2 separate regions of the Homo sapiens genome follow, and region 1 is linked to region 2. The links come from fine-mapping of genetic effects on gene expression. A gene starts in region 2. The other region holds a variant in brackets. All regions are shown on one strand. Distances are between the middles of the regions. Region 1 overlaps PKD2 (polycystin 2, transient receptor potential cation channel). Region 2 holds the start of PKD2 (polycystin 2, transient receptor potential cation channel).

Region 1 (8,000 bases), 50 kb before region 2:
TGGTAGAGTAACAGAGGCTTATTCTTCTCTCCATTGTTTTAATATATGATAGGAAGAAGAAGCTTAAGAGGTGTAAGTTTAAAAATGAGCCATAAACCATGCATACAGCAAGATACATATGAACTTGAATGATATTCCTGACCTTTTCAGTCCTGTTAAAGTACAGCTAGGGAACACACCTTTGTTTTACACCAGAGGCTGTGTCTCCCCGGAAAAAAAATTTTTTTTAAACAGGAAATTAATACAGTACATCTAATACCCAATCAATAAATACCATATACTTAACCAGTAATACCTGGACTGACTTTAGAGTTATTACACTGAATTACTGAAAATGTGATCACTTAACCTTCCTCAAGGGATCTTTACACAATTTACTGAAATGGAAAAAATGTTATTTTCTTAAGAAAATTGTTCTTAAGATGACTGTTAGTGTTTAGATGAAAAATATTGCCTAAATTAAGCTGGCTTAACACCTTCTCAGTAGACAATTGAATATATAAATGTTAAGAAAAAGAACAAAACACCTTAAAAAAACTTAATTGACTTAGGGCAAAAACATTAAAAATGTTCATTTGTACCAAATCAAGAGAATAAAAAAATTATTTTTGAAAATAATTTTAATGCAATTTCCATTCATTGTTACATTTAGTTTTAAACTTAATTATTTGAATATTCTCTGTAGGCAGTCTCTAGATGAATGGGATATAAATAATTTAAAACAGAATATCCTAATTTTGACATGCAATGATTCACTCAACTATTACTCGACATCTTAGATCTAGCTTGCTTTTCCGTTCTTATTTTTTAAAAAGAAAAGAAGAAAGAGAGAAAAGTCATGCTAGCAAGTGACTACGAAAGTGCTGACATATGAGTTTAAAAAGCATGTAAGCATATTCTACTTTTTAGGCAAAGCACTATTTTAGGTATCTTTATAAATTTGTACTTGATCTAATTTCTTTTTTGCATGGAATAGATACATATATAGAGAGAGAAATGAAAGACCATGGAAGAGATCTAATTTTTTTTGCATTGAATAGACACATATACATGGATCAATGAAAGACCACAGAAAAGACATTTGATATGAGTCTCAAAACTGTGAATTAATAAAAGGAAAATAAGTTTTCCAACATCCACACTTTTTTCTACTTCCTGGGTCTTTATTTAAAATTGATAGGACATAAAGTGTGAGAGAAAAGAGAAGACAAGGATTTACGAAGTTTAAATTGAACCTCACTATAAATAAAAATGTACATACCAAAAGAATGAAGAACATAAAGAACACAAATGTAGTGAAATAAATTGGTCCCAAAACTCGATTAGCTTCCTCAATCTCTGCAAAGTTGATATCGCCCAAAATGATACGGAATTGAGTGAAGCTATAAAAATAAAACAAAACACCACAATACAAAAACAAAGAATGTCCACTAGTTGATGCAACATTTCTTAAAGATGATTTCATTATTTTTGGACCTTTTAGCAGTATAGGTAGCTGCCGAATAACAGAAAATTGTCAATCCCATTTACAAAGTCTTGCTACTTGTATCAGCAATTAAAGCCTTCTGCAATAATAATAAAATGCTTTCATGCTACAGAGGTTATTTCCATTTGGTTAAAAAGAAAACACAAGCTGGGCACGGTGGATCACGTCTGTAATCCCAGCACTTTGGGAGGCCGAGGCGGGCGGATCACGAGGTCAGGAGTTCGAGAACAGCCTGGCCAATATAGTGAAACCCCGTCTCTACTAAAAATACAAAAATTAGCTGGGCTTGGTGGCGTGCGCCCATAATCTCAGCTATTCGGGAGGCTGAGGCAGGAGAATCGCTTGAACCCGGGAGGCAGAGGTTGCAGTGAGCTGAGATTACACCGCTGCACTCTAGCTTGGGCGATGGAACGAGACTCCATCTCAAAAAAAAAAAAAAAAAGAAAATACAATTATTATTCAATAACTTATAAAGCAATTGGCTATAACATTTCAACACATAATCTAGGTAAAACATCTTAACCCTAAACCTTGACAACAGTCACCCTCGGTCTAAAGTTAAAAATTTCTTTAAAAAAAAAACAACAGGGCCTGGTGTGGTGGCTCATGCCTGTAATCCCAGTACTTTTGGAAGCTGAGGTGAGAGGACAGTGTGAGGCCCTGGAGTTCAATACCACCCTGGGCTACACAGTGAGATCCCTTCTCATAAAAAAAGTTAAAAATTGGCCAGGCATGGTGGCATACACTTGTAGTCCCAGCTACTCAGCAGGCTGAGGCAGCAGGATTGCTTGAGCCTAGGAGTTCAAGGCTGCAGTGAGCTATGATTGCACCACTGCACTCCAGCCTGGGCAACAGAGCAAGACCGTGCCTCAAAAACAAAACAAAACAAAAAAAAACAAAACAAAAAAACCCCAAAAACCCAAAATGGTTTGAGTTCAAAGATCCAATATTCTGACAAGTACTTAAAATGGGATCAAAGTGGCCAAGTGTTGTCAGTGCTGGGTCTTAGCAAAATCACTTTTATCAACAGCAATATTAATTCGAGATATCTATGCACAAAACCCTATTACTTCCATTCCTTTTTAAACTAACTCCTTTCTAAATGGCATAGAAATCTGACACTGGCTGCTTTTTGTTGTTTTATTTCACATTTGGGATCTTTGGAAAAAAAAACTGAAAATTCTTGTACTGGTCTGAGTTTACCTTAGAATATTAGAAATATCTTGTTTTTTTCCTTAGAAAATAACTTGAAGTTCTAAATATATGGCAACAATATTCAACAGGAGTAAGAATATAGGCAAACAGCCTTCTAGAAGCTACCATCTGCATTTGGTGCAAAGAAAAACTCAGTCTTCAGAACAGTGTTGGTTTCCTATGTCTGTTAACTGTATTTTACTACTTTGGGCTGCTATCTTAAGCATCAGCATTTCAGGATGCATTGTCTTCTTTGCATGGGTAGATCAATGTTTTGGGAAAAGGTAATTAATTCTTACTTAAAATAACTGGTTTTAAATAATTGGTGGTCATATAGCAACCTCATATGAAGATTTATTCTTGAGAAGCAGTGACAACTCTGATTAAATTTTTCTTCTTAATTTCATATATACTTACATACACTCTTGGAAAGTACTGAAGTCATCGACCTGAGTGCCAAAGACAAGGTATGCCAACTGAGCATACGCTAGGAAAATAATGAAGAACATAATAGCAAAGCCAAACAGGTCTTTGGCACATCGAGACATGGTTGTCGAGAGCTGGCTCATGGTCCTGTTAAAATTGATGAATTTGAAGAGCTGTAAGAGAGAGAAGACATCAATAGATGAATGGATAAACAAAATGGTGTGACTGTATATAATAAAACATTATTTCATCCTGAAAAGAAATTAAATTCTGACAGGTTACAACATGGATGAACCTTGAAAACATCATGCAAAGTGAAATAAGCCTGACACAAAAGGACAAATACTGTATGATTCCACTTAAATTAGGTACTTAGAATAGTCAAACTCACAGTGACAGAAAGTAGAATGGAGGTTACCAGGGACTGGGGGAATTGGGAGTTAGTGTTCAATGGATACAAAGTTTCAGTTTAGAATAATGAAAAAGTTCTGAAAATAATGCAGCATAATGGCGATGGCTGCACAACACTGTGAATGTACTTAATGCCACTGAATTGTACACTTAAGCATGGTTAAAACAGTAGGTTTTATGCTATCTACAATTAAAAAAAAAAAAAAAAAGGCTGAGTGCAGTGGCTCACATCTATAATCCCGGCACTTTGGAAGACTGAGGCAGGAGGATCGCTTGAGCCCATGAGTTTAAGATCAGCCTGGGCAATATGGCAAGATTCTGTTTCATTAGAAAATAAAAATAAATTAGTCAGGTGTGGTGGCACACACCTGTGGTTTCAGCTACTCAGGAGGCTGAGGTGGGAGGGTTGCTTGAGCCTGGGAGGTCGAGGCTGCCGTGAACTGTGACTAGTGATGCTTTCCCCCCAAAAAGGATTAAAGTAAAAGGGAGGGAAAAAACTTCACACAAATAAAAATTAATTATAAAACCCCCCAGGAAATTCTTGTTGCATAATATTAACTGTCATTTATTGTGCATCAGTTATATGTGGAGGGCTTTATGTACATTGCCTCAAATCTCTGCAATGTCTGAAATATTGGCATTCTATCCCCAGGAGTCAGCTGGGGCCTGCAGCCAGCTGCCCTGCCTGAACTGCAAAGCCTGCTCTGCCTGACTGCAAAGAAATATTGAGCATGTTGGTAGATAGTGAACCCTGCTGGTAGACAGTGAACCCTGCAAAGCCATATTGAGCATGTTGGTAGATAAGGCACTGAGGATGGCTGCCCAGATTGTGTAGCTCTAAGTAGAAGCCTCAGTGGAAGAGCACATGATGAGATATTAGAAGTAGAGTCATGAGGCCGGGC[G/A]TGGTGGCTCAAGCCTGTAATCCCAGCACTTTGGGAGGCCGAGGTGGGTGGATCACGAGGTCAGGAGATCGAGACCATCCTGGCTAACACGGTGAAACCCCGTCTCTACTAAAAATATAAAAAATTAGCCGGGCGTGGTGGCAGCCGCCTGTAGTCCCAGCTACTCGGGAGGCTGAGGCAGGAGAATGGCGTGAACCCAGGAGACGGAGGTTGCAGTGAGCTAAGATTGTGCCACTGCACTCCAGCCTGGGCGACAGAGCAAGACTCCGTCCCAAAAAAAAAAAAAAAAAAAAAAGTAGAGTCATGATCCCTGCCTTAAAGACCTTAATGATAAAGTATCGAGGGGCAAGACATTTCCAAGAGAAGCACTAAATAAAACACATCAGCCTGAGACACATGTTGTAGGAAAATCTCTAGAAGTTTAAAGGTCTGTTACACATTGTTACTGGCCACAGTGAAATATTTCTTGAGGATTGCTGTAATCACATTACTTAATCATTACTTAATACAATCCCAATTCATTTGAGATCTTTTTTTTTTTTTTTTGAGACGAAGTGCTGCTCTGTTGCCCAGGCTGGAGTGCAGTGGCATGATTCAGCTCACCGCAACCTCTGCTTCCTGGGTTCAAGCAATTCTCCTGCCTCAGATTCCCAAGTAGCTGGGATCATAGGCACGTGCCACCACACCCAGCTAATTTTTTTTTTTTGTATTTTTAGTAGGGACAGGGTTTCACCATGTTGGCCAGGCTGGTCTCAAACCCGACGTCAGGTGATCTGCCCGCCTCAGCCTCCCAAAGTGCGTGAGCCACTGTGCCCAGCTGAGATCTTGATTATTATTACTATCTTGATTATTATTACTATCTTGATTATTATTATTAAACTAATAATAATCAAGGAAACTTCAGTAATTCTCAGGCAGCACCTGCCATCCTTTCACCAGCACAGGCTCTGACTGTGCTATCCAAACATGTGTGGATATCTAAATTCAAATTTAAATTAAGTAAGATTAAATACAATTAAAAATTCAGTCCCTTGGTCCTACTAGCCACATGTTAAGTGTTCCATGCCTATACATGGTTAGTGGCTACTGTCTAGGACAATGAAAATATAGAACATTTCCATCACCACAGAACATTCTTATTACTATTATTATTTTTGCTGTTTGATTATTATTACTATGTTATGATCAAGGTTTTGTGCTTTAGTGATGGTTTCTCTTGAACAAGCATGTCAATAAATAAATAGCATGAGAAATACAGGATAAAGTCTATGCATTTTTTTTTTTTTTTTGAGACAGGGTCTCACTCTGTTGCCCAGGCTGGAGTGCAGCGGTGCGATCTTGGCTCACTGCACCCTCCGCCTTCTGGATTCAAGCAATCCTCCCGCCTAAGCCTCCTAAGTAGCTAGGACTACAGGCACGTGCCACCACCCCCAGCTAATTTTTGTATTTTTAGTAGAGATGAGGTTTTGCCATGTTGCCCAGGCTGGTATCAGACTCCTGGGCTCAGGGGACCTATCTCGGCCTCCCAAAATGCTGGAATTACAGGCATGAGCCACTGCGCCTGGTCCAAGTCTATGTCTTGTGATAAACCTCAGGTCTTCTAGGTATGAATACCAACTCAGAAAAGTACATAACGGGTAAGTACCTTCCAGAACAGTGCTTTTCAAGAGAACGTTCTGTGATGATGGAAATGTTCTACATTTCCACTGTCCTAGACAGTAGCCATTGAACACTTAATGTGTGGCCAGTAGGACCAAGGAACTGCGTTTTTAATTGTATTTAAGCTTAACTAATTTAAATTTGAATTTAAATAGGCACATGTGGCTAGTACTTACTGTCTGGACAGCACAATCAGAGCCTGTGCTGGTGACCGAATGGCAGCTGCTGCCTGAGAATTATTGAAATTTCCTGCATCTCCAGAATTGAGGCTTGTTGTATATGAAATGTCATAACCTTTCACACACATGGAAATGCACATTATATCTTGGGACAATAAGGAAAATAGTGAGCAAGGAACTATTTGGAAGCAGTGTCTGTTCCAACCTTAATTCTAGGTAAAGCTTCCCTTACAGCCTCTACCTGGAAAAGAGGCGATCCCTTCTAGCAAGCATTTCCAAGTGCAGCAACTCTCCCCTTCCCTCCACCTGCTCCTTCCCTCTCTTTCTCTAAGTTCCTTTTCCTTCACCTGTTCATCTCATCTGTTAGCAGCCTGGGGCCCCAGGCCCAGCTAACACACTGAAAGGCCTCTTACTGCATTTGTTAAACAAAACCTATAGGGACTGATCTTGCACTAATTCAGATAGCAGAAGTATGTCATTGACAGTGAGAGGAATGATCACATGAGTCTCAATAGTTTACTTTATATGTAAAATATGAGGCCTGGCACGGTGGCTCATGCCTGTAATCCCAGCACTTTGGGAGGCTGAGGTGGGAGGATTGCTTGAACCCAGGAGTTCAAAACCAGCCTGGGCAACATAATGAGACCTTGTCTCTACGAAAAAATTTAAAAATTAGCCGGGTATGGTGGCACATGCCTGTAGTCCCAGTGACTTCGGAGGATAAGGTGGGAGGATCGCTTGGGCCTGGGAAGTCGAGGCTGCAATGAGCTGTAATCATACCACTGCACTCCAGCCTGGGTGACAGAGTGAGACCCTGTCTCAAAGTAAATATTGAGCAGCTTTGGCTGGTCACTTGAATTTCAAATTCAAGTATTCCATGATTTTGTGGAACTCATTTTTTTTAAAGAAAATATTATTTAAAATGTAGAACATGAAATTTATAAATTACCTTAATCCAGACAAAAAATACTGTGACAGCAGCTATATTGTTGAACTGTATCTGCCAATATGCCAGATGCTCAAAGTTGGGGAAAGTATTTTGATCTTCCAGAAACTGTAGTAGCACCTCCACATTTGATGTTCTGTATATGTTAATTCCTATAGCTACCACTGACAGCTGAAAAGCAAAATATTTATATTTTATTACAGTGTTTTAGAAATATGAAACTTACCTTAATATGACTAGTATATTTTTCTTCACCAATGTATTAATTATAAGGGCTCACCATTATACTTACCCGATGTCATTCTTAAAAGTCACTCACTCAAATGGAAAGTGTTAAGCCCTGCCATAAAATAAGTAAAACAGTATATTGCTTGCATTTCCTTAGTTCGGAATAGAAACTCAACGAAGGCATGCATGCATGTGTGTGCACATATACATTACACACACATACATGCATACACAGAAGAGATCACACTATAACAGACTCAAACTCAAAGAGGAATGCTTTCTGTTTTTTCTGCCACCTTCATTTTAATCACTTTCCACCCTTTTGCTTTCTTGCCTTCATCCTGCTGTTTTTATTTGTGATTTTTAAATTTAAAATTTTTCGGTTTCTCTGCATTCTCCAATTGCCAGCCATTCTTTGCTCTGTTTAACAAAAATATAGTAGATGTCTATGTATACAGCACTGTGCAAGGGCTAAGAGGAATAAACAGAAGTAAACTGCATAAATCCTGCCCTCGAGACTCAAGAGCAGATAAACACATGAAGTTAAATAATACAAAAAACTACTAAAG
Region 2 (14,861 bases):
ACTGTGTTGGTATGATTATCCTGCATGTCCTAATAAATAAATGTTCATAAACTGAAGAGATGCAGACAATTGCTGGCTAAAGTTAGGTTTGGGCACTACTGGCATATAGCACAGTGGATGAGAAACACTTTGAACACAAAGTGCCTGGAATTAAATCCTGACTGCAACATCTAATAGTTGCGGCCCTGGGCAAGTCATTTAACCTTTAGAAGGCTTAGTGCCCTCAACAGTAAAGTGGTGACGGATGAGAGTTCTTTCTTCACAGGTTGTTGTGAGGATAAAAACAAAACTATGAATATAAGGAGTTTAACACAGTGCCTGGCACACTGTGAGCAATAAACCATTATTTCCTTTTGAATTTAACAGTCTAGGGCAGGGTTTCTCAAAGTCCTCACTCCTGGCAATTTGGGTGGGAGAATGCTTTGTAGTGTGTGTGTGTGGGGTGGCTGTACTGTGCATTGTAGATTAGCAGCATCCTTAACCTCAACCCAGGAGATGCCAGGGGCATCCCCCCAGGTATGACAATCAAAAATGTCTCCAGAGATTGCCAAATGTCCCCTGAGGGGCAAAACTGCCCCTCCCCCCCCCCCCCATTGAAAACCTGTAATTTAGGATAAAGCTCTGCTCGTGATGACATAAGACTAAGTTCTGAAGCCTCAAGACAGGCTAAATTCATCAGTCACTGTGCATAGACTATCATGAACAGCAACTAAGAGCGGTGAGTTGGATGTTTGCAGTTTCTGTGTGGTAGCATCAACCAAAGCCATGTTCAAATCTTTTTTTAAGTCTCAATAACCTTTCCAATAACTAATTATGCTTCCCTTTAGACATCGAAAGGGAAGGCAGAAAAAATAAAAATTACATAAAGTATGGCAAAATGAAATAACTGCATTGGAGGTCACTTATTAAATACAATCAGCACACCAATTTCAATGTCAAGATCCAATTATTTTAGGAGAAATAAGAGTCGACTTATTATTTCATTCATTATTCCAGGTATTCAACCTGGAATACCCTCTCTAAAATGTTACACGAGCAAAAAATTAACTTCTTGTTCTTCAGGGTATTGAAGGGGAGGGAGGTATCTGTTTTAGCAGCTTAGCCCACCCTGACTTGCACAGCTAGTACTTCATAGTTTCTCTAGGAAAAAAAAAAAAAAGCCCAAGAATATACGCCTAAAATAACAAACAGGAACTGACTTTAACAGGTTGATACATTCAGAAAAACATTCAACTTCTGAAATTCAGAAAATTTTATGACTCAGAGTGCCATATTTTATCTTTGTACTAAAAAGAATTTGCTAAGAAAAGAATAAACAAATACTTGAGGATACTTTTAAATCTGGGCTTCATCTTTAAATCTTTCGGTCATCCTTGGCTTCCTTTGGTCCAGGCCCTCTTCACCTCCTTACTGGCTGCCTCCCACAGGTCTTCTTGCCTCCTTTCTCTCTGCCAAGCTCTCCTGTACACCATGCTGCTGACACAATTTCCTTTCAGCATGTTCTGTTCCTGCTCAGAAACTTTCAACTCCTTCCTAATATTTAGGGCTACATTCTCAATTCCTTGATTAGATACAATGCATACAGCAAACAGGCCTCAACAGGCCTCAAACATGTCTTCTTTCTTTACTATTTTACTTCTGCTAAGAAGATAGATCTATTTACTGTAGAAGGAGCAAAATCGACCATTTGTTGTCCATCTTGGATTCATGTCATTAAACAACAGACCAGAGCATGGTGAAGCTAGAAAGGACCTTGGAAGCTAGGTTCAATTCTTCCATTTTATAAATGAGGAGCTCAGGCTCAGGTAGTTTGAGGGAGCTATACAAAGTCACAAAGGCAAGAGACTTCCAGGGAAACTCCTGACCACTCCAAACTTCAGTCATTTCTCCCACCTTTAAAAATTGCAAGTTACTTTCTGTTCTGATCCTAGGGCACTGCTTACATAGTGCATATAAGATTTCTGTCATCAGTATCCAAAGGGGGCAGGGGGAATCTCAACCCATTCATGGCTATTTATTTTACATTTCTGGGTTTTTGTCCATAGGAAAACAGTGATATGCTATTCTAGTTTATTCATAGCAGCTAGCACAGTGCTATCTTCACAGTAGGTGCTAAACATTTTAAAATGTTGCTTATTTAATAAGTGACAAGAATATCAATTATATTTCTTCATAAAAGAAAGGAATAACAATTTATTTAAACATTTTATATAATTAAAACTTTTCAGCTAGGAGCAGCAGCTTGCACCTGTAATCCCAACTACTTGGGAAGCTGAGGTGGGAGGGCAGCTTGAGCCCAGGAGTTTGAGGCCGCAGTGAGCTACGTTTGCTTCCCCGCACTCCAGCCTCAGTGACAGAGTGAAACCCCGACTCTTAAAAAAAAAAAAAAAATTCCCGATTCCTGAGTCTGCTCTCCTACAAATCAGACCATTGACACACTTTGGCTAGAGGTTTTATGACTATGAGCTTATTCATTTTGTTTCCTGAAATTTTCCTTTAAAAGAAATAAATTTACATACATACTCATATGAAATATATATTTTATTTCTCTATATTCTGTTATTGAGTTTATTCAAACAAGGTTAGGGGTGTTATCAAATGCTTAAACTGAGTTAAAAGGATCATGCAACTTACCATTATTTATTAACTTAAAAGGAACTTCTCTCTCACTTCAGTGAATATTTTTTAAATGCACATTTTAAATGGTGTAAAATAACATAATTAATCCAGTTTTGAATCTTAAAAAGTGTTAGTGTTTTATTAATTTACTCACACAGGTTATCCGAAAAGGATCTTCTGTTCCCCATCATGCTTTTAATAAAATTAACTAGTATAAGAATCTCCATAAACGAAGTACCAAAATGTTTACATTTATATTTCTGAAGCGCTAATAACATGACAAATACATGCTGCACATTTTATGTCTTAACTCACTTAATTCTCCCAAAGAGTCAAGTCCTAAGCGTTATGATCATCTCTTTAAAAAAAAAAAAAATCCAAAAATTGGGTATCAGAGAGGATAAGTAACTTGCTCAAGGTCGTACAGCTAATGAGTGGTGGAACTGGGATTTCAGTGTAGGCCTGACCTGGTTTTAATCACACTGCTGTAACAACACCTGGATTGTTTTTGTGCAAGACTTTCAAAACTGACAGAAGGAGAAGAACAAGAAAAACTCAACTGAGAATGGAAACTCTTAAAAATATAGATTAAAATAATTTGGAGGGTAAAAGCAAATGAAATACTTTCCCAAGGATACCTCTGACAAAATTTGTAAAAAGAGAATTTCCTCTGGTACTAGAAAATTCATGTCCTCTTACTGGGCACTGGCAAATTTGAAAATTCCTCTTCTGCCTTTTGTAGAGCTGGGCGCACTGGGCTCAGACACATTTATCAGCTGCTATCTGGTGACTTCATCATTTTGGTGGAATTTCAAAGAACATTAATTTAGTTATTTAAAAACATACTTCAAATTTTTTTAAAACAATGTAATCTTTCCTTTGCAACTGTTTTTAGAAAAATGTCTAGAATTAGAAACGGCCAAATAACTTCACGATATTATTTTATTCTATTTGTGGTGTTCTTAACAGCTCCCACTCCTCAAAACAACCACACACATCACCAAAAAAATGCACCAATGACAATCTGCCACACTCCTCCCACAACTTGACATTATATGCACTGTACTGCTACCCTTTTCAGCCCGGGACAATGGAGTGTCCAGGCAAGAAGGAAACCACGGGTGACTATAACATTTTCCTTTAGATTTTGTGACATTGGCAAATATGCAGTTGCAACTACCATCAGTTACACAAGTAATGTTCATTTTTTCCTCTACAAGAAAAAAAAAAACAAAACCCAGATGTACTCTTTCACTCTAATTAGGCTTTCACTAATTTTCAGTAAAAAAGACTATGGTGACATATCCTGAAGAAGGAGGTATCCAATAAATATGCACCAACAAAAGAGCAGTGGAATTCCGCGCTGGGTACCGGAAATAGGGCAGCACTAGCGGAGGTGGGGAATGCGCTTCCAAGGGAGGCGGAACGCAGAGGGGATGCGAGATGGAGCCCGGGGAGCTGCCGCAGCGGGCGATGGCCCCGGCCGGCGCCGGCCGTTCTGGTTCGTGCATCTGCCGCTGCGGGTCGCGCGCTCTTACCTCGCAGCCCGCGAACCAGCCTCTCCGCCCAGGCCACTCGGGGCGGCTGCCCTTCCAGGGGGAGGTGGCGATGCAGCGGGTCCCCGCCGCCGACTGGGCTGGGGCACGGCGGGCCCTGGTCCTCTCGCCGGCGCCGCCTCCCGCTCGGGTGGCCCGCGCCGTGGTAGCCCCCAAGCCCCCGGCTCCGCGCGCCCACGGAGCTCACGGCCGAGGAGGCGGCCGACCTCCGGCTGCCCGGGCGCCACTCTACGTCCATCTCCACCACCATTCCGCCTTCTTCCCCTTCCACCTCCTCCTCCTCCTCCTCGGCCTCGAAGCCGGGGTTATCGCGGCTCCACGCCTGCCGGGAGCACGACGAGAGCGGAGGAGAAGGGGAGGCCGCGGCTCCGGCCGGGGGGTCCCGCGCGGCCGCCTGCCGGATGCGCTGCATCTCGATCTCCAGGCCCCGCTGCTCGCAGAGGCCGCCCGGGGCGGCGAGGCTGGCGCCCACGGCCGCGCAGCCAGCCATCAGCCGGCCCGGGTCCGGCGCGCGGGGCGCGGGCGGCCGCTTGGCGTCCCCGGGCTGCTGAGGCTGCACGCGACTGGAGTTCACCATCGCGGTCACTGGCGTCCGGCGCGCGGGTGCGCGGCGCCGCGCTCGGCGCTGTGCGCCTCAGGAGCCATGTTCCTTTCTTCCCGGCGCCCGCCGCCGCCTGCTCCCCGCCCCCGACCTCCCCGCGGTCCCGCGTCCTCTCGCCCGCCCCTTTGGCCCGCCTCCCTCTGGCCTCGCCCCGCCTCGCCCATCCGCCGCGGCGCGCTGAGCGGGGAGGTGCGAGGGAGCCGCCCCCGCGGTCTGCGCGCTCGCCCGGCGGCTCCCGAGTCCGCGTTCCAAGTGGAACCGGAGCCCGGGCGCGGGCGCCCACGTTCCATTCCCGGGAAGGCCTGGGAAGGGAGGGAATCGCTCACCCGCCAGCCCGCCTGCAGGGAAAGGGCTCCTGGAGCTGTCGATGCCTGCCCGACGCTGAGATAACTCTTGGGTCCCAGTTATCCACCAGCCACTTCTGCCTCGATTCACCAAAGGGCAGGGAAAGAACCTTTTGGTGAGATGGTGTGAATTAGCGACATCCAGCCTGAGCTGAAGTCTCCAGCGGGTCAAAGAAATCTTTCCATTTGCAAACTACCAAGGCTGACTTGCTGTGCATTTGGCGGGCCTCCTGCCCCTGATTCTGCTGGTTTGGAGATGCTTTCTCGCTCTTTGGTTGGCTTCTGTCTCCACACATTGTGGGGATCCCAGGGATTCGTCATAGGACTCTCGGATCGCTGGTGCCTCCACTGTGATCTCCGGTCTCCCTGCGGCCAGCACTGACTTCTAGCAACAGAATCCTGCATGAGGGCCTAGGCACAGAACTTTATTTCCACTCTTCTGAACACATCTAATGTGATGCTCTGCAATTGTCTGAAATTTATCCTACCCTAAGTCATTATCTTGTCCCCTTCTCTGGAACCTGCTTCACTTCCCGTATCCCAAGGTGAGGTTTGGGGCTTCGCTGTCCTCCTCACTTCCCAGGCCACTCTTCTTCATGGAAGCCTCGCGGTTTACCCTCCACCGCCTACACCTTATCTTCTTGTTACTTTTGCCCCACAGATATCACCCTGATATGATCTCTGTTTCTCACTCCTGCTGGCTTGATCTTATGTCTTGCATTATTCCGCATTAGAACAATTGATCCCTGTCAACTCCCATCTCTATTCTCCACGTCGGTGTCCTCACTATTTCCAGGTTATATTGCAGAACCAAAGCTGCTTATTTGTCACGTTGATGCTTAGACACCTCTGTGGGCTTCTGGCAGCTGAAAGGATAAAATTTAATTTCTGTGGTTTGGTTTAGTAAATTCTCATAATCTGCTCCTGTATTTGTTTGTTAGGGCTGCCATAACAAAGTACCAGAGACTGGGTGGCTTAACAGAAATTTATTTGCTCACCTTGTCTCTACAAAAAATACAAAAATTAGCCAGGCTTTGCGGTGTGTGCCTTTGGTCCCAGCTATTAGGGACGCTGAGGTGGGAGGATCGCTTGAGCCCGGGAGGCAGAGGATGTAGTGAGCCAAGATCGGGCCACTGCACTCCAAGTGACAGAGTGAGACTCTGTCTCATAAAGAAAGAAAGAGAGAGAGAGAAGAAAGAAAAAAAGAAGGAAGGAAGGAAAAAGAAAAGAAAAATTGTATTTTCTCACGAGGTGTTGGCAGAGTTGGTTTCTTCTGAGGCCTCTCTCCTTGGCTTGCAGATGGCCCCGCTTTTGTGTCCTCACGCCGTCTTCCCTCTTCCCTCTGTATGCGTCTGTGTCCTAATTGTCTATTCTTATACATCATATTGGATTAGGGCCTACCCTCATGACCTTGTTTTCACTTCATTACTTCTGTAAAGACCCTGTCTCCAAGTATGGTCATGTTCTGAGGTAATGGGGGTTAGGACTTCAACACAGAAATTTTTGGGGGGACACAATTTAGCTTTAACAGCTCTTAATGTACTCCTCTAGCATGGCATCCCATGCCATCCATCCACCTTAATGAATTATTCATTTGTTCTCTAGGCACATATAACATGCTGCTAATATTTAGGTAATTATGGCTACCTATTACCTGATCCTGCAGTTTATTAATTTAGATATTCATGTTCTTCTCTTAACTGTGAGCTTCTCAAAGGCAAGACTGGTGGGTCTGGAGCACAGCCCTAGCTCATGCTATTCATCAGTTCATTCTGAAGACATTTCCTGTGCCCTGAATTAAGGTCTGGGCATGTAGAGAGGAGTATGATACAGCCTTGGCCCTCAAGAGGAGACAGACCAAAAATGAGAGATTACCAAGTGGGTTAAGGGTTATGGTGCCTGTCATCCAAGGAACTTCTGAAGCTGAAGATGTCCTGAATAGCACCAGCAGCACTGCAGAGTCGAAGGATTCTTACAGACACATTCCAACAGAGGAGAGCCAGGCCTGGAAAGAGAATGCAGAATCTGAGCCAAAGGGTCCTCTGGAGAATAGGCCTAGTACAATGTTTTCAAATTGTGATCAGAAGATCTCCAGCATCACTTGCAGCTCTTGCTAAAAATATAGATACTGGGTCCACATTCCAACCTTATTGACTCAAAATCTTCCGGATTCCAGTCCTGAAATTCTGAATCTTCACAGGGGATTCTCAGGCATCCAAAGTTTGAGAAGCACCAATGTGTTCCAAATGGAAGAGGTTTCATAAATATTTCCCCCACATTTCTATACTTCACTGTTAGCACTAGTGAGACAATCATCTGGAATCCCAGACTTAGAAGAAAATTCAGTGGTCTTTGAGTCAGGTTACTCTATGCTTGTGCCTGCAGTCACTAATTCGTTGTAAGGACCCTGGAGCCAGACTGCCTGGATTCTGATTTACTCACTACTTCCTAGCTGTGTGACCTTGGGAAAGTCACTTTATCTCCTTGTACCACCAAAGATGAGGATAATGATAATGCCTACCTCATAGGGTTGTTGTGAGGATTAGGTGAATTAATACATGTGTTTTAGTCCATTCGGGCTGCTATAAAAAATATCATGTAGTGGGTGGCTTATAAACGATGAACCTTTATTTCTTACAGTTCTGGAAGCTGGACGGTCCAAGATCATGCTGCCAGCAGATTTGTGGTCTGGTGAGGGTCTACTTTCTGGTTCATAGACTGCACCTCCTAGCTGTGTCTTATGGTAGAAGGGGCAAAAGAGCTCCCTTGAGCTGCTTCTCTAAGGGCACTAATCCCATTTGTGAGGGCTCCAGCCCCATGATGTAATCACCTCTCAGAGGCCCCAGCTCCTTATACCATCACTTTGAAGGTTAGGATTTCAATGTATGAATTATGGGGGGGGAACACAAACACCCAGACCATAGCATGTGGAACACCGTCTGACATGTACGTGCTAATAGTGTTAGAAGTAGTCTTTGCTCTTATATCTTAATTATGATAACTGTTTTCATCTATGATAATTGCTTTTGTGGATGTCTTTGTTAGTGTTAGAAGTGGTCTTAGCTCTTATATCTTAATTATGATAACTATTTTCATCTATTATAATTGCTTTTGTGGATGTCTTTGTTCCAGCTAGGCTGTGAGTTTCTGGAGGGCTCCATGCCAATCCTAGAGGCTTCTATAACAAATACTTACTAAACACCTACTATATGCCAGGCACAATACTAGGAGAGACGGCAATTCATTAAATAGGGGAAAAGCCTAGCTCTCATAGAGGTGAGCTTATATTTTACAGGGTTTGAGGGGATTTAGAAGAGAGATTGCCCAGGCTGGCATGGGTAGGGAAGGTAGGTAGGGCCAGATCATAGGAAGCCTCAGATGTGTGTTAAGGAGTACAGACTCTCTATAGTTAATGATAACATAAATAGGCCTTTTTTTTTTCTTTCTAGAGTGTCAGTTCCTATTTAAAACAAAATCTGAAATCTTCCTGAAACTATATCCTCACCCTTAAAAGAATTCAAATTGATTGGAAATGTGTCTGCACATACATAATTCAGAGTTATATGTGTGCTTACCCAAAATTTTCTTTACAAATTATTGCAAGAAATGTAATCATTAAAAATTCGCAGCAATTTTTGTGTAATACCACTTAAATAGCATTTGGTCCATTGCACCCTAAATCTTACATTTTGGAGTTTCAATATTAATTTCAATCTTAATTTTCATAAACCCAACACCAGCCATCTAATATATTTCCTGTTCAAATACTTATTCATTCCTTCTGGCTTACTAAGGTTCCCTTTTGTGCTTTTATGTTAATTTGTTTCTCCCCTTTAGAGTGCCCAGCTTTTGCTCAAGCAGGCCCTGAGGCTGTAAATTTCTCTCCCTACCCACGGAATTCCTTCCTTTAATACCCATCTGAAGACCTTACTTCTAATAAGAAATTTTCCATTATTAAATAAGTGACGTGCACAAAGTTTTTTTCATCTCATTTCCACAATCCTGTTGTCACATTACAAATTTCCATCATCTGTAGCATCTGGAAATACCGAGTGGGATAGATAACATGGCCTGGCTGCTGTTTGTTTTTTTTTTCATCAGTGTGCTAGATCTTCCTGGACACGCTGCACAAATCTCACCTCAGTCTTAGTGCCACCGTGGACGCTGGAAGGAGCCATTTTAAAAGGCAACCTTAAACAGTTCAGTCTAATTTAATATTAGTGGCCTCCACACCTCTGACTCTTGTATTATTAGAATTGCCTGTTTGGCTTTTATTTTCCAGTGTGAACTGATGAAACAGACACAAAGTGAAGTACCCGTTGGTTTCGCGGTCTCCACCTCGAGAGGAAATCCAAAAGGAGTTTCTGGCATGTGTGGTGTTGCTTAGCAATTTACCCAAACAAACATGTTTCCTCCTCATTTTTTTCCCCAGTACTTATTTACTCAAGAACATTGTAAAATCAATTTTTACCACTTGACATCTGAAATCATTAGAAGAAAATCTGGTGTTTTGGGCTTTATGAGAAGAACTGCTAACCACAGTAAGACTTTGACTTTACTTTGTTTGTCATTTTGCTGCTTTAATAACATAAAGCTAGGATTTGTGGCCTTCTTCATGATAGATTTGGTTTGGATTGGCCTGCATACATCCCTGTCTCTGTGGGGTTATCTTGGCACCATAATTGGCTGGCACCGTGATCTTGATGACCTAATCTCTCTATCTCAATTTCCTTCTCTGGATAATGAGGTTAAATACCCATCTTATAAATCCCCCACAGAATTTTTGTTGAGGACTAATGAAGGAATATTAATAAGTTTATAAAACATGTATTGAGTGTCCGCTACATGCCAGTCACTGTGTTGCATTCCAGAGTGACAAAGATAAGACATGATTCCTACCTTCAATGAGATCAAATCTTATAGTTAAACTGCCTGGAAACATCCATAGATCATTCTCAACTTCTCTACCCATAAAAACTTAGGAATTTTTCTAGACTCAGACTTCATCTCTCCCTGGAACCTTCCATAGACACAATCTTGGCCCCCAGCATGAATTGACATGCCTCTCTACCCTGTAAACCTTTATTCCAACATTTGCCACCTTATACTGAAAATATCTGTTCACATAGACGTCTTCGTGAGTGGCACATAAGCTCCTGGAGAGCAGGGACCCTGGCTTATTAGCAGCTCAGCAGCCAGTCTGTTTTCTAGTGCAAGTTTTCTTGGGGACACCCCCACCTACCCACCCCTGCTGCCATTCTTAGCCTATATGTGTCTCAGGTGTGGCAGACACCACTGCTAGCTCCCAAGTGGTGATTGTGGAGCTCAGGCTTGCCCAATCAGCATCACGTCTCCTTGGCCCCTGTGAATGGTATTTCACAAGTATGTTATCCTGTTGTGTTAAAAAAAAAAATTAGGCCAGAAATTTTTTTCCAGTTGTTGGAAAAGAAAAGCTTTTCTTCCCACCAGATTTAGAGTTTTAAAGATGTAAGTCCAGACAAGCTGGCAGCCAAAATGTTGATGCTCAGGGGAAAAATGGCGCCAACAATGGAGATACAAAAAATATTTATAATGTGGATACTGGAAGAATACTAAAATTGAACTAATGTTTGGGTGGCCATGCTATTCAAGAACATTATGAAATACATTTTTATTGTGTGCCATCTCCTGGTTTTGTCAGATGCAGATTATGATATTTATTATCTATATTTTTATCCAAGTTCAAAAGAATTTTGAACAAATTGGGGCCAAGAACAGAGTTCTTTGAAATACTGTGTGCAGCTCTTCTCTTCATCAACTCTAGTTTATTCACTAGTACTGTTTGGGTATAGTTGTATTTTAAAAAAACTTTAAATCCAATTTTCACTAGCCCAGATTTTTCCAAAGCTTATCACAATTTTTTTTCAAATACCTTTTGATGCCAACATGAATGAGGCTTCCAGCATTCCCAGATCTACCAGACTTTGCAGAGTACCTGTTTTATGTCCCCTTCGTACAATCTTAGATATGATTAGGATGCTAAAGAAGTTGTTTATGCCTGCAAGAAGCTTGTAACTAGCTTGCTATACATGGATAAAACATTTAACCAATAAGAGCTTTATGACATTCTTCTGGGAAGTTTTTTTTGTTTTGTTTTATTTTAAATAAAGATTCTGGAGTCTAACTTCTAGGGATTCTGATTCATTATGTCTCAGCTAGGTCCTAGGAATCTGTATTTTAAGAGAGTAGATCAAAGAGACAGAGAAAGACTAGGTTCTCAGGACATCATTTGAACCCCTGAGTTAGAACTAATTGAAGCTAGATCCACCCCTGGACTCCATGAGCCAAAAAATATCCTTTTAAAAAATTAAAAAAATTATTTCAACTTTACCCTTGCCCCTTTCCCTCCCTCCCTCCTCTTGTATTCCCCACTGTCTATTGTTGCCATCTTTATCCATGGGCACCCAAAGGTTAGCTCCCACTTATAAGTGAGAACATGTGGTATTTGGCTTTCAGTTACTATGTTAATTTGTTTAGGTTAATGGCCTCCAGCTGCATCCATGTTGCTGCACAGGACATGATTTTATTCTTTTTCATAGCTTCATAGTATTTCATAGTGTATAGTACCATGTTTTAAAAAATCCAATCCATCATTGATGGGCACCTAGATTGACTCTATGTCTTTGCTATTATGAATAGTGCTGCAATGAATATACAGGTACACATGTCTTTGTAATATTATTTACAGCATTCCCATCAGCAATAAATAAGAGTTCTTTTTCCACATCCTCAACAGCAGTAGCATTATCAGTGTTTTGGATTTTGGCCATTCAAATGGGCGGGCAATTGGATCTCGTTGTTTTAATTTGCAATTCCTTATTGACATATATGTGGAGCATCTTTTCATATGCTCAGTTGCCATCTGTATATCTTCTTTGGTAAGGTGTCTGTTCAGGTTGTTGGCTCATTTTTTCCTTTTATTTACTGGGGAAAAGCATGAATGCAGTATGCTGCTACCACAAATTACGCAGTTGAGTTTCCCACATTTGGAGAAATCACAGGGATCAGCAAGTCTTCAGTGGAATAGAGAAGCCTTGCCCTAGGGAAAACTACCCTTGTGGTCATGGTATCTACCCTGCCTGGTAAGTCTTTTGGGCCTATTTTTCAATCGGGTGGCTTATTTTCTTGTTGAACTTTAAGGGTTCTTTGTATATTTTGAATCACAATCCTTTATCAGATAGGTCTTTTGCAAATATTTTCTTTCAGTCTGTGGCTTATCTTCAATTTTTTTTTTTTTTTTGAAATTTTATATTAAGATAACTTTTTATTCAATAGATCAATAACATTCAGTGTTAATAAATATAGGCAATAGGTATTCTCATCTATGTGCTTTTGGTGAGATTATAATAATGTAGTGAAGGCTTTTCGGAAGATAGTTGGGCAGCATATATTACTATTTAAAAAGTGCATTCCATTTGATCCAACAATTCTAGTTCTTAGTTTCTGTGGTAAGACAACAGTCCTATGTATACAAAGGGTATATGCTGGGGGCACGTTATACATAGGGTAGGACTGGAGGACTAAGGCAAAGAAACATATTCTCTGTTGGCTTCTGTACACTTTATATTACTTAAGTAATTATTTTAAGTGCCCAAGAATTTGAAAGTAAGGTGGGTCTAGAAGTCTGTCATAGGTTTCATCAACAAAATTAAGCCTTGTCTACTTTTTTTTTTATTTTTATTTTTAATTTTTTTTTAATTTATCAACTTTTTTCAGTAGCTGATATAGTTTAGCTCTGTGTCTCCACTCAAATCTTATCTCCAGTTGTAATCCCCACATGTCAAGGGAGGGAGGTGATTGAATTATGAAGGCAGTTTCCCCCATGCTGTTCTCGTGATAGTGAGTGAATTCTCATGAGATCTGATGGTTTTATGAATGGCAGTTTTTCCTGCATCCTCACTTCTCTCTCCTGCCACCAGGTGAAGAAGGTCCTTGCTTCCCCTTCTCCTTCCGCCATGATTGTAAGTTTCCTGAGGCCTCCCCAGCCATGTAGAACTGTGAGTCAATTAAACCTTTTTCCTTTATAAATTACCCAGTCTTGGATAGTAGCTTTATAGCAGTGTGAAAATGGACTAATACAGTAGCCTTTGACCTTTCTTCTTAAAGATAAGGATATTAGCAAATGTAAACTTTTTACCAACAAACACCTTTTAAAATAAATATCTTTTACATTTGCCAAAGTCTATAAACTTTCATTTTGTGGTACAACAGTAAATATAACTTATTTTATATATTTTAATTTTTCATTGTTCACTACCAGTACTTTTTTAAAAGTATATTATCTTTATAGATAGTCATTAACATATTGTTAAATTTATATTTTATAGAAGATAGTTCCTAGTATTGTTTAATTTGTAGAGATAAAAGAGAAAATATGCAGATCCAACTTCTAAGAGCATTCAATATTATACACCAAGCTTATTCCTGAAAACAATGACCCAGAAAACCACATGAAAGAGTTTTATTATGGATATCCTAAAACAAGTAACTATAAGTTTCAGATATATATAGAATATTCCACAGTTCCTATAATAAAAATTCATGAGTTTTCTGATCACCTTCAATGTTTGTACTGAGTTAACACACCGCTGTTACATTAAAGCAAACCATTAAAAATAAAGCTAGTTTTCTCTCTTTTTTTCAACTTTTATTTTAGACTCAGAGGTATATGTGCAGGTTTGTTACCTGGGTATATTGTGTGATGCTGAGATTTGGGGTATGAAAGATCATGTCATCCAGGTACTGAGCATAGTACCCAATAGTTAGTTACTACCAGTACTTTACTAACATGAATTTTTCTTCCTTGAATTTTTTTCTCTTTATTTAAACCTTCTGGAGTAGATTTTTTATTAGGTGTTTTTTTTTTGGTTTGTTTTCAAAGAACAACCCATTAATGCTTCATTATTCCCCAAAACTGTTTAAAATTAAGAAGGCCTTTCTGTTACCATAGACATAAAACGAATGGATTGGGCATTATATTTTTCAGTTTAATCTTTTCTCCTCCTCTTTAGGATTTTCTAAATATTCCTCCACTTTCCTCTGCCATTAAATGTTGTTATGGGAAAAGTAGGAGGTCAGATTAAACCCATTGTTTTTCTCTCAGGCTGAGTAGATGAGTATTTTATTATGATTATTATTTGGCCCAAAAGTTATGTCTGTTTAGTGAAATTATTATTATTACTATTGTTATTGTTATCCTGCTCTCAGATACATCTTTCTGTTGATTATTCAGCATAATTATTTACCTAGGAGATATTGTGCATGTTTAATCAGCAAATTCAAATTTTTACTTATTTTAACAAGGTTTTCTTCTTTTATAATTTCAAATAATCTGCTGTTTCATTAATTCTGTAAATTTAGCAATACCTATTACGCATATGTTGAGCTACTGTGTCATGTTTCTGTATTATCTCCTTTCTAATTTCTCTTTCTGTCATTTTCTATTTTTATTTTTAATAGGATTTTTATAAATCTTGACCTTCATATTATTGTACCATTCATGATTTTGTGGTTTTAAAGGTGGCTTTTCTTTTCCTAATTATTTATTGAAAATCTTTAATTCCTCCTGTGAATTCTGCCAGCTCACTTTTCATTTTTCCATGGTCATGTATTTTATTTTATATTTTTCATTCTTTTTTAAAGTTAAAATTATTTTTAAAGGATTTCTGTTCCTGGCTCTGATGGAGCAACACGGACAGATTT

The links. PIP is the estimated chance that this variant, and not a neighbour inherited with it, causes the effect.
Region 1: its variant is fine-mapped to the expression of PKD2 in whole blood (INTERVAL, PIP 0.96).

Annotation. Positions count from the first base shown.
Region 1 is chr4:88,051,365-88,059,364 of GRCh38, reverse strand. It overlaps PKD2 (polycystin 2, transient receptor potential cation channel), which reads right to left. Exons shown (of 15, transcript NM_000297.4): 7 at 7,207-7,374; 8 at 3,098-3,279; 9 at 1,262-1,382. Among named protein-coding and RNA genes, the nearest start is that of PKD2, 48 kb to the right of the region's middle. The variant G/A (reference allele first, on the strand shown) is at 4,420.
Region 2 is chr4:87,997,625-88,012,485 of GRCh38, reverse strand. PKD2 (polycystin 2, transient receptor potential cation channel) reads right to left here and starts at 4,851. Exons shown (of 15, transcript NM_000297.4): 1 at 4,158-4,851. The coding sequence starts at 4,752. It also overlaps the pseudogene RNU1-36P. RefSeq lists silencers at 3,969-4,108, 4,159-5,088.